Regions from separate parts of the Homo sapiens genome. Here region 2 is linked to region 1. The links come from fine-mapping of genetic effects on gene expression. A gene starts in region 1. The other region holds a variant in brackets. All regions are shown on one strand. Distances are from middle to middle.

What was found. PIP is the estimated chance that this variant, and not a neighbour inherited with it, causes the effect. A credible set is the group of variants that fine-mapping cannot tell apart.
Region 2: its variant is the best candidate, but not a certain one, in a credible set for the expression of LRRC27 in whole blood (Lepik 2017, PIP 0.58).

What each region holds. Positions count from the first base shown.
Region 1 is chr10:132,329,746-132,334,124 of GRCh38, reverse strand. It overlaps LRRC27 (leucine rich repeat containing 27), which reads right to left and starts at 1,932. Exons shown (of 11, transcript NM_030626.3): 1 at 1,869-1,932; 2 at 391-648. The coding sequence starts at 600. It also overlaps a transcript of STK32C not described here. RefSeq lists a silencer at 2,111-2,230 and an enhancer at 2,115-2,649.
Region 2 is chr10:132,351,568-132,355,946 of GRCh38, reverse strand. LRRC27 (leucine rich repeat containing 27) reads right to left here. Exons shown (of 11, transcript NM_030626.3): 7 at 4,194-4,340; 8 at 61-157. Among named protein-coding and RNA genes, the nearest start is that of LRRC27, 22 kb to the right of the region's middle. RefSeq lists an enhancer at 2,302-3,264. The variant G/T (reference allele first, on the strand shown) is at 1,949.

The sequences.
Region 1 (4,379 bases):
CAGTGTGTAACATGAGCAAAATCATGGGTGAGAACAAAGTTTTTAACTGCTCATGTTGCCTGATTTTCTTTAAGGTTTTGTGTTTTAATTAAGAGACCAAGCGTGTTTGGCAGTAGTTTCTACCACAGGTTTTGAGAGATGAACTGCAAGGAAGAGAACAGACACCTTCATCTAAATAGATGTACTATTTCCATTGGTTGGTCCCCATCATGAATTTCCCATTTTGTTGTGATTGGCGTATGAAACTATGAGTTAACCTTTCCTCTATTTAATTTTAGAATTCATCAATTCCAAAGAGAAAGAAGCCTACAAATAAAGCCCAGGGGTACATTCCCATTTCTGTCTATAGGGGACCTGTGGGCACACAGCCTGAGGAGCAGCCCCACTTACTTGAAGGCTGGGGATTCTAAAGACCTCCTCCAAACGGCACAGACCACTTTCACTCAAGTCTAAAATCGGTGAGGAGGAAAAGATGATGCCTCCAACACCCTTGTGAACATCTTTGGAGGGGGTGGCAGGCAAGCTCCTAGTCTGACCAGCACCCTCCTCCAGATCAGCAGCAGCCACAGAGGGAACTTCGTAGGAGCTGCTTCCCTCCATCCGTTCTCTTCCAGGGACAGCAGCTCATCCTCCTTGGTCTGGAGTCACCTGGAGACACGGGAAAGGGAAACGTAGAAGCAACTAATTATACCGAGGCAAAACAGAATAGCTGTGTGGCAGATCTACTGTAATGTAACTTGCTTTAAAAGCTATCATTTTTCCTAAGCAGTAGCAAAAATTTGACTTTTAAACATGTAAAAAAAAAAAAAAGGAATACAAAGAGGTTCAGATTAAAATTCTCTGCTCTCACTTTGTACAATGGAGTTCCAAGATTTAACTCCTGGAAAACGCAAAGGCGCACAATAGTAATGATCATTTTAGGGATGTAAACAGATCGGAACATTTCAAAGCCTGTAAATCAACTGCAACGCTTCCATGAAATGACTAGGGGCGGGTGGAAATTTGCACTGTTTCTTACCTCTGGTGTGGTTCTGTGCCATTTGAACTATGTTTTTAGTTTCTTGAGGCCAGGAAGCCTGTCTTTTGTTTACCATTTTGACCCAGTGACCAGAACTAAGTCTGGCTTACACCCAGTTAAGCACCGGGGAAAAACCTGTTAAATTAATCTCGAATTTTCGTTGTCCAGCAACACTTTTACTCAGAAGTATTGTTCACCAAAATCTCATTCAGCGAGGCACACTTCCACTTGCAATTTCCAAACAATTTATTCGGCAATAAGAATCAACGTTGGAATGCATCAGTTCACCTAATTCAAGTCACTCAACAGCCCAATGATTGGCATATGAGGCGCAGATCAGTTAGGGAACTGTTCCAGGGGCGCAGTTAATTGGGGGGTAGAGGCGACACCGGGACCCAGCAGGGTTCAACCCCAGGCAGCCTGCATTCCATGGAAGCCCGCGGGCTTTTTCACGGTCAGTTCACTTGTTTTCTCCGAATCACGGAACTTAAAACAGAGGAGGGGAGGCTTCAAACCTCAGAACAGGGAAAGTATCTTAAAACCAGAAGTGAAACAACAGCCTGGACTCACACAGGGCCCAGGCAGCGCAGGCTCCGTGGGGTTTCCGAGGCTGCCTTCAAGGGATCCCCACGCACGCCCACCCCCGCTCCCTGCCTCGATTTCCCCATCCGGGCGAGGCTGAGTTGGGTCCGACGCTCTGGGCCTCACATTCCAGGCCTCAGAAGGGCAGCCTTTGCGGTCAGCATCGCGGCTGGAGCTAGGCGACAGGGCACGACGGGCCGAGGCACCACCTTCCTGCCGCCGCCCGCCTCGAGGGCTCAGCGAGCTGGCCGTACCCGCCCCGTCTCACCTGCCGCGTCCCCGCCCACTGAAGCGCTGGCGAGCCCCGCCGCTGAGAGCAGCAGCCCGACAATGGAGGCCACCCAGCCAACGCGGTCGCCATGGAGACGCCGGTACGGAATCCCGCAGGCGCCACGCTGAGCGCGAGTGTGTCTGTGATGCGCCTGCGCGAGGGGTGTGGTGCGCCTGCGCGCGGGGGTGTGCGTGTTGTGGGGGTTTGTGCCTGCGTGCGGGGGCGGGGTGTGGGTGCCCCTGCGCGGCAGGGGGTCGGGTGTGGTGCGCCTGCCCGGGAGGGGGCGGGGTGTGGTGCGCCTGCGCTGGGGCGGGGGGTTGCGCTTGCGGTGGGGGGGTTGTGGTGCGCCTGCGCGGGGGTGGCAGGGGGTGGTGCGCCTGCGCACGCACGCGGCCAACGGTAGCATCCGTTTTTCCGCGCCCGCGGCCTTGAAGGGGTGGTGGTCGACGGGCAAGTAGAGACCGCGAGGGTCTGGAGGGGCGACCGGCCTGGCACAGAGGGGAAGGAAGAGAGCGGGATGCTAAGTGCCGTCTGGGGAGCCGGAGGGCCCGGGGCGGGCGGGGCTGCTCGAGGACAGCCGAGCAGAAAAGAATTGCTGCTGAGGCACCACCTTTGGAGCGGTCCTCGCTGCCTGTCCTTCCCGCTGGGCTCACTCCCCGCGTCTCTCCTGGGGCTTCCTGGAGCCACTTCCCACAGGAGCTGCTTGTCCCCAAATCTTGCCTCAGGACTTGCTGCCAGGGGAACGCAGACTCAGAGCGTCCTCTTTGGAGAAGTAAGGCTGCCTCTGGACGGAGGAGTGAGGGGGGCGAGGAAACGCAGTGAGTGTCCTGAGGAAGGGTTTTGAGAATTTGGAAGAAGATGAAATGACACCGGGCGGGAGGGGAGGTGCTCGCGTGGTCCTGTGGAACCCTGGAGTCCCGTGCACCTTCATTCCAGGATCCAACTGATAATGAAAAGTAGCACCCTCTGTCCCACCCAGAAACACTCTGGAAACCCGGACAGTTTAGCTGGAGTCTGCCATGATTTCACTTTTTTTTTTTTTTTTTTTTTTTTGAGGTGGAGTCTTGCTTTGTCTCCCAGGCTGGAGTGCAGTAGCGCGATCTCGGCCCACTGCGACCTCCGCCTCCCAGGTTCAAGCAATTCTCCTGCCTCAGCCTCCCCAGTAGCTGGGACTACAGGCGCGCGCCACCACGTCCAGCTAATTTTTGTATTTTTAGTAGAGACGGGGTTTCATCATGTTGGCCAGGCTGGTCTCGATCTCCTGACCTCATGATCCGCCCCCCTCGGCCTCCCAAAGTGCTGGGATTACAGGCATGAGCCACCGTGCCCGGCCTGATTCCACTTTTTAAAGGAAACGACATAATTATGTGGAGAAACGACTATCCACTTTGAGGGGATTTACGTTTTATTTTTGTGAAGAGATCACAGTAAGAAATGTTTTTTAGGCCGGACACGATGGCTCACGCCTGTAACCCTAGCACTTTGGGAGGCCAGGGTGGGAAGATCGCTTGAGGCCAGGAGTTGGAGACCAGCCTGGGCAACCCAGTCTCTACAAAAATTAAAAAAAAAAAAAAAAAAAAATGCTGGGTGTGGTGGCACACACCTGTAGTTCCAGCTGTGTGGGAGGGTGAGGCAAGAGGATCGCTTGAACCTAGGATTTTGAGGCTGCAGTGAGTTATGATTGTGCCACTTAATGTCAGCTTCGGTGACAGCGAGACCCTGTCTCAAAAAAAAAGTTTTCGTACATACCCAACTATCTACCAATCAGGAAGCTGAAAGCACAACCAGTACCTTCTCAGGAGCGTGGGGAGGCCAGCCACCCGGGCAGAGCAAGGAGAGAATGAGGAGTGACATGGGTGTTGCCGTGAGTGGCGAAGGGGATGGAAGATTTCAGCACGATGCTATTTCTAACAAGTTTCAGCATTCCAGTATCTCTTTTCACAAATAAAACATTTACTAACCATTTGAGCGTATTCCCTCTTGCTTGTTATTGTTGCCTCAGGTTTTTGTTTCACATTTTTCATGCTACATTAATTTTTGTAGTCAGTAGTTAATTGTATGTACGAGCATGTTTTGCCCTTTACTGTGCTCAGTTTTTGCCCAGCCAGATTGTATCCATTGGTAGCCTTTTGGCAAGTATTCTTGGGTGAGCCTCCCAACGTAGGAACGAATGAAGTGTTCGTGTTGATCTGATTATTGAGTGGCTGTGGAGCTGGTGCCGCGTTCCTTGTTGAGTCATTTCCTGTCTTGATTTTAGGACCTTCCTCCGGGCAGCGACTGCTGCTACCCTGCCGAGAAGTTTGCTGCCCGTGGCATTGCTACTTCCATGAAGGAAATCTATCTTCTCTTTTCATGTCTTTGTTCTGAAATTTCGCTGTGGTATTTCTGAGTATAAGTTGGTTTGGCTGTGTTGCCTGGCGCTGGCCGTGTCTTCTCACCTGAGATAGCTAAGTTTCAGTTCCCAGCCCTTCCCGGCCATCTGTCCTCCCGTGGCACCTCTGCACCCTG
Region 2 (4,379 bases), 22 kb before region 1:
GAGCACCCACCCACCCCCGGGACTGGACTAGTGCCCGGTCACCGCCCGCGCGTGCCGTACCATGCTCCTCCGCGGAGGCAGGAGTTTGCTGAGCTCTTCCTTCCTCTTCCTCATCCTCTGGGCTCGCTCTCTCCACTCCTGCAGTGCCCTTTTCTCTCTGGAGAAAGGGAAGGTTAATGTCATAAGTTACAGGCAGCTTCGAGCCAAGGCTACAGGATTCCTCTGTCATTCTACAGCCTTGCGGTGCACCTGTCTCCAGGGGGCACAGGCTGGGGGCGTGCATGCCCTCCGGGTGGGAGTCTGAACCACAGCCTCTTCCTCCCGGCACATCTGGGCAGAGCCGGGAATGCCGGGTTCTATCCCGAGGCTCTGTGTGTCGGTGCTGCCAGCAGTGACTGATGCTGGGGGCCAACCCGACCCAGTGACCGAGGAAAAGGCATCAGGACCCCTTTCAGGTAAGGGCACCAGCTGGGGCTGCCACCACAGGCGCTGCACGACGGGTTGGGGGTGCCTGGCTGCGGGCACTTGTCGACATAAGGTCTATGGAAGATCTGAATGCCTGTCTCTAAGTCCCTCCCTTCAGACACTTGAATTTCACTTTTAAAAACAGGCATCTGGCCAAGGCGGGCGGATCACGAGGTCAGGAGATCGAGACCATCCTGGCTAACGCAGTGAAACCCCATCTCTACTAAAAATACAAAAAATTAGCCGGGTGTAGTGGTGGGCGCCTCTAGTTCCAGCTACTCGGGAGGCTGAGGCAGGAGAATTGCTTGAACCCAGGAGGCAGAGGTTGCAGTGAGCCAAGATTGAGCCACTGCACTCCAGCCTGGGTGACGGAGCAAGACTGTCTCAAAAAACAAAACAAAACAAGACAAGAACAGGCGTCTTCGGGCCTCCGCAGTCTGCAGCCAGAGTCACATGCTCCCTCCTCACAGCTCGCCGCCCAGGGCTGCGAACGTCCCGAGTAACGCCCACATCTGCGGCTGGGCGGGGCTCCTCGCGTGTGGCTGGGGTGGAATGAGGTCCCCAAGAGCCCTTGCTCAGGCCCAGGGCTCCACCCCCGGAAGGCCAGCTCTCCAGCCTGCAGGACTCCTGTGGTTGGTACCCCCTCTCCATCCTGCCCCCAGATCCGGCCTCCTCTTGTTTCTCCCATCATCATCCTGGACGCCTGGGCCCCAGGCCGGGTTTTCCTCGACGCCTCCACCCGACCTCTGCTCTCCTTCCTTGCGGTCACAGCGGCTCAGCCCTCCTGGGCTCTACCCGGCCCACGGCCCACCTCTGACCACCTTCCTGCTGAGGGCTCCATCCCGAGTCAGTGCTGCCTGGGATCAGAGCCTGGCTGCGTCCTCTCCCAGTGCCACCTCAGGGCACAGGTGGTCTCAGCAGCTGCCTCAGGTGAGGCTGTGTCCTGACGCCTGCCTGGGTGTGTCCCAGCCCCCAGCCCCCAGCCCCAGCCAGGGTGGTGCCCCCCGTGTCCCCACTTAGCACCATGTGTGGTGCTGGCCCCGCTGCGCTCCTGGACGAGGGCCTCCACTTAGTGTCACTGTCTTCTGGTCACACCTTGGGAAGCAAAGGGGTGACGCTGTCCACAGGGTGATGTGAAGGGGGCTGTGCCGGGTCTGGGCCCTCAGAATAGGCCTGCCGAGCTGCTCACTAGGAGACTGCAGGACACTGGCTCTGGGCTCCAGGCAGGAAAATAAAGAAGAAAGAGTTCACTTGCTCTTTGTATCCAAGAACTTCTCTTCCATGAAGGTGTGGGACGAGGCCCGAGCCTGTTGTCTGGGGGTAAGAGTGCCCTTTCTGCCCCCTGCAGCTGGTGGTGCCCAGAGAGCCTGGGGCAGGGGCTGTGCCTGCGGAAGGTCTCATCACAATCACCTCCATCACAGCCATGGCCAAGAGGGAGTGGGACTCCCACAGGCAGCCTCCTGGCAGGGCAGGTGATACCTGA[G/T]GAGTCAAGGGGGCAGGTGTCTGGACACCCACTTCAGAAAACGGTACCTTGAAACTGGCAGAGCCGAGGCAGGAGTGGGACCCACCTGCAGCAGGGAAGGGAAGGGAGATGCCTGCTGAGGCACACAGTGAGGGGAGGGCAGCTGGCATGCTTGACAGGCGGGGCCGGTCCTGGGGGGCTCACCTCGCAGTGAGTGACGGGCCCGGCTCTGTAGAGCTACCCCGAGGGACAGTGTGGGGCGACTGATGGGCACCAAAGGAAAGCCTTCCCGGTGCTCCCTGGGCCCCAGCAGCTGTGGCCCGTGGCCAGCAAGACCTGGTCCCACAGCGATGGGCTTTCTGGTGCAGCCCGGACCACACTCCCATGTCCTAGGACAGCCCTAGAGCGGTCAGTCAGCCTCATCCTTGCCCGTCAGTATGACAGCCTGGGACAGGGGACCAGTTCTGAGGACTTCACCTCATTCATCTTTTTAATGAAAAAGACAACCAACTACAATGTCTCTCTGGACATTGGGTGACAGCTGTGGACAATCACAGAATCTGTGTGCTGGACACAGCCCCTATCACATGGTCCCGAGAGAAAACAGCACACACACAACGGGGTGGCTTCAGGAGGGTTTATTCATGTTGGGGAGGGAGCAGGTGAGCCACAGGGGCGGTGCAAGAGCCCTGTGCCAGTCAGGGCCGGGCTGCAGCCGCCCACAGGACAGACCAGGGAAGGAGAGATTGTCGGAACCCAGAAGGAGGGAGAGGCTGGACTCGGCCAGCTCCAGGCAGCTCACAAAGAAGCCGGGAAAGTAAAGACGAGGCCCTCGCTCTCCCTTCCTCCTCGACCTCCTGCTGGGGGCCCCCGCTGGCCAAAGCCAACCACCAAGTGAGGGGCACGGGGGTGCTGTGGCTGTGGTCCATGCCAGCCGGACTCCTGGGGCCCAGGGAGGGGTGAAGCCAGGTGGTCAGTGGAGCTGGAGGACAGAGAAGACACTGAGGACACCGAGTCCATCGGCCAACACACCTCGCAAGGTGGTGGCACTGGCGGCAGTCACAGCAACACAAGAATGAACCTCCCTGATGACCGTGTCAGGGCCTGGAATACTCTAGGGAAAATGAGGAGGAAAGGACTGAGGAAGAACAAGAAATGAGGGAAAAGAACAAGAAAGCAGGCAGGTGTCGTGAGGAAGCCAGGGCAAAGACGGACACAAGGGGGCGACCGCGAGCACTGCAACCGGCCTGTCCCACAGGGAGGCCTCGGGGCTGCAAACAAGGGAGCCCATGCACGCAACGCCCTGCAGACCACGAGCGCTGCACCTGCCCCACATGGAGGCCTCAGCGCCTGCCCCACACGGAGGCCTCAGCGCCTGCCCCACACGGAGCGCTGCACCTGCGCCTGCCCCACACGGAGGCCTCAGCGCCTGCCCCACACGGAGGCCTCAGCGCCTGCCCCACACGGAGGCCTCAGCATCTGCCCCACACGGAGCGCTGCACCTGCGCCTGCCCCACACGGAGGCCTCAGCGCCTGCCCCACACGGAGGCCTCAGCGCCTGCCCCACACGGAGCGCTGCACCTGCGCCTGCCCCACACGGAGGCCTCGGGGCTACAAACAAGGGAGCCCATGCACGCAACGCCCTGCAGACCACGAGCGCTGCACCTGCCCCACACGGAGGCCTCAGCGCCTGCCCCACACGGAGCGCTGCACCTGCGCCTGCCCCACCCGGAGGCCTCGGGGCTACAAACAAGGGAGCCCATGCACGCAACGCCCTGCAGACCACGAGCGCTGCACCTGCCCCACACGGAGGCCTCAGCGCCTGCCCCACACGGAGGCCTCAGCGCCTGCCCCACACGGAGGCCTCAGCGCCTGCCCCACACGGAGGCCTCAGCGCCTGCCCCACACGGAGGCCTCAGCATCTGCCCCACACGGAGCGCTGCACCTGCGCCTGCCCCACACGGAGGCCTCAGCGCCTGCCCCACACGGAGGCCTCAGCGCCTGCCCCACACGGAGCGCTGCACCTGCGCCTGCCCCACACGGAGGCCTCAGGGCTGCAAACAAGCGAGCCCGTGCGTGGCGCTACAGACCACAAGGGGCACGTGCAGCTCGGCTTCCAGGTGAGGAAGAGACGGATCCTGGATCAGCATCAGTGAGGGGAGAACTAACTAAACACTTCCACGAGGCCTGCCATAAAATCACAGCCCAGTCCCAGTTCCGGGTGCACTGGGCGGGCTGTGCGGACCCCCACCCTGTGTGGACTCACCGTCTCTGCTGCTCCATCAGAGCCTGCTTCTCCTGGAGCTCTCGGAGCGCCGCCGCTCGGCTCTCTTCCAGTCTTTTTGCTCGGATCGCCATTTGGTACGGTGACAAGAGGTCGGGTAAGATGCTCCTGGAGGAGGCTGTCTTCCTTCTAAAATTACAGAGTGTTTTTAGCTGAATGTTTAACAAA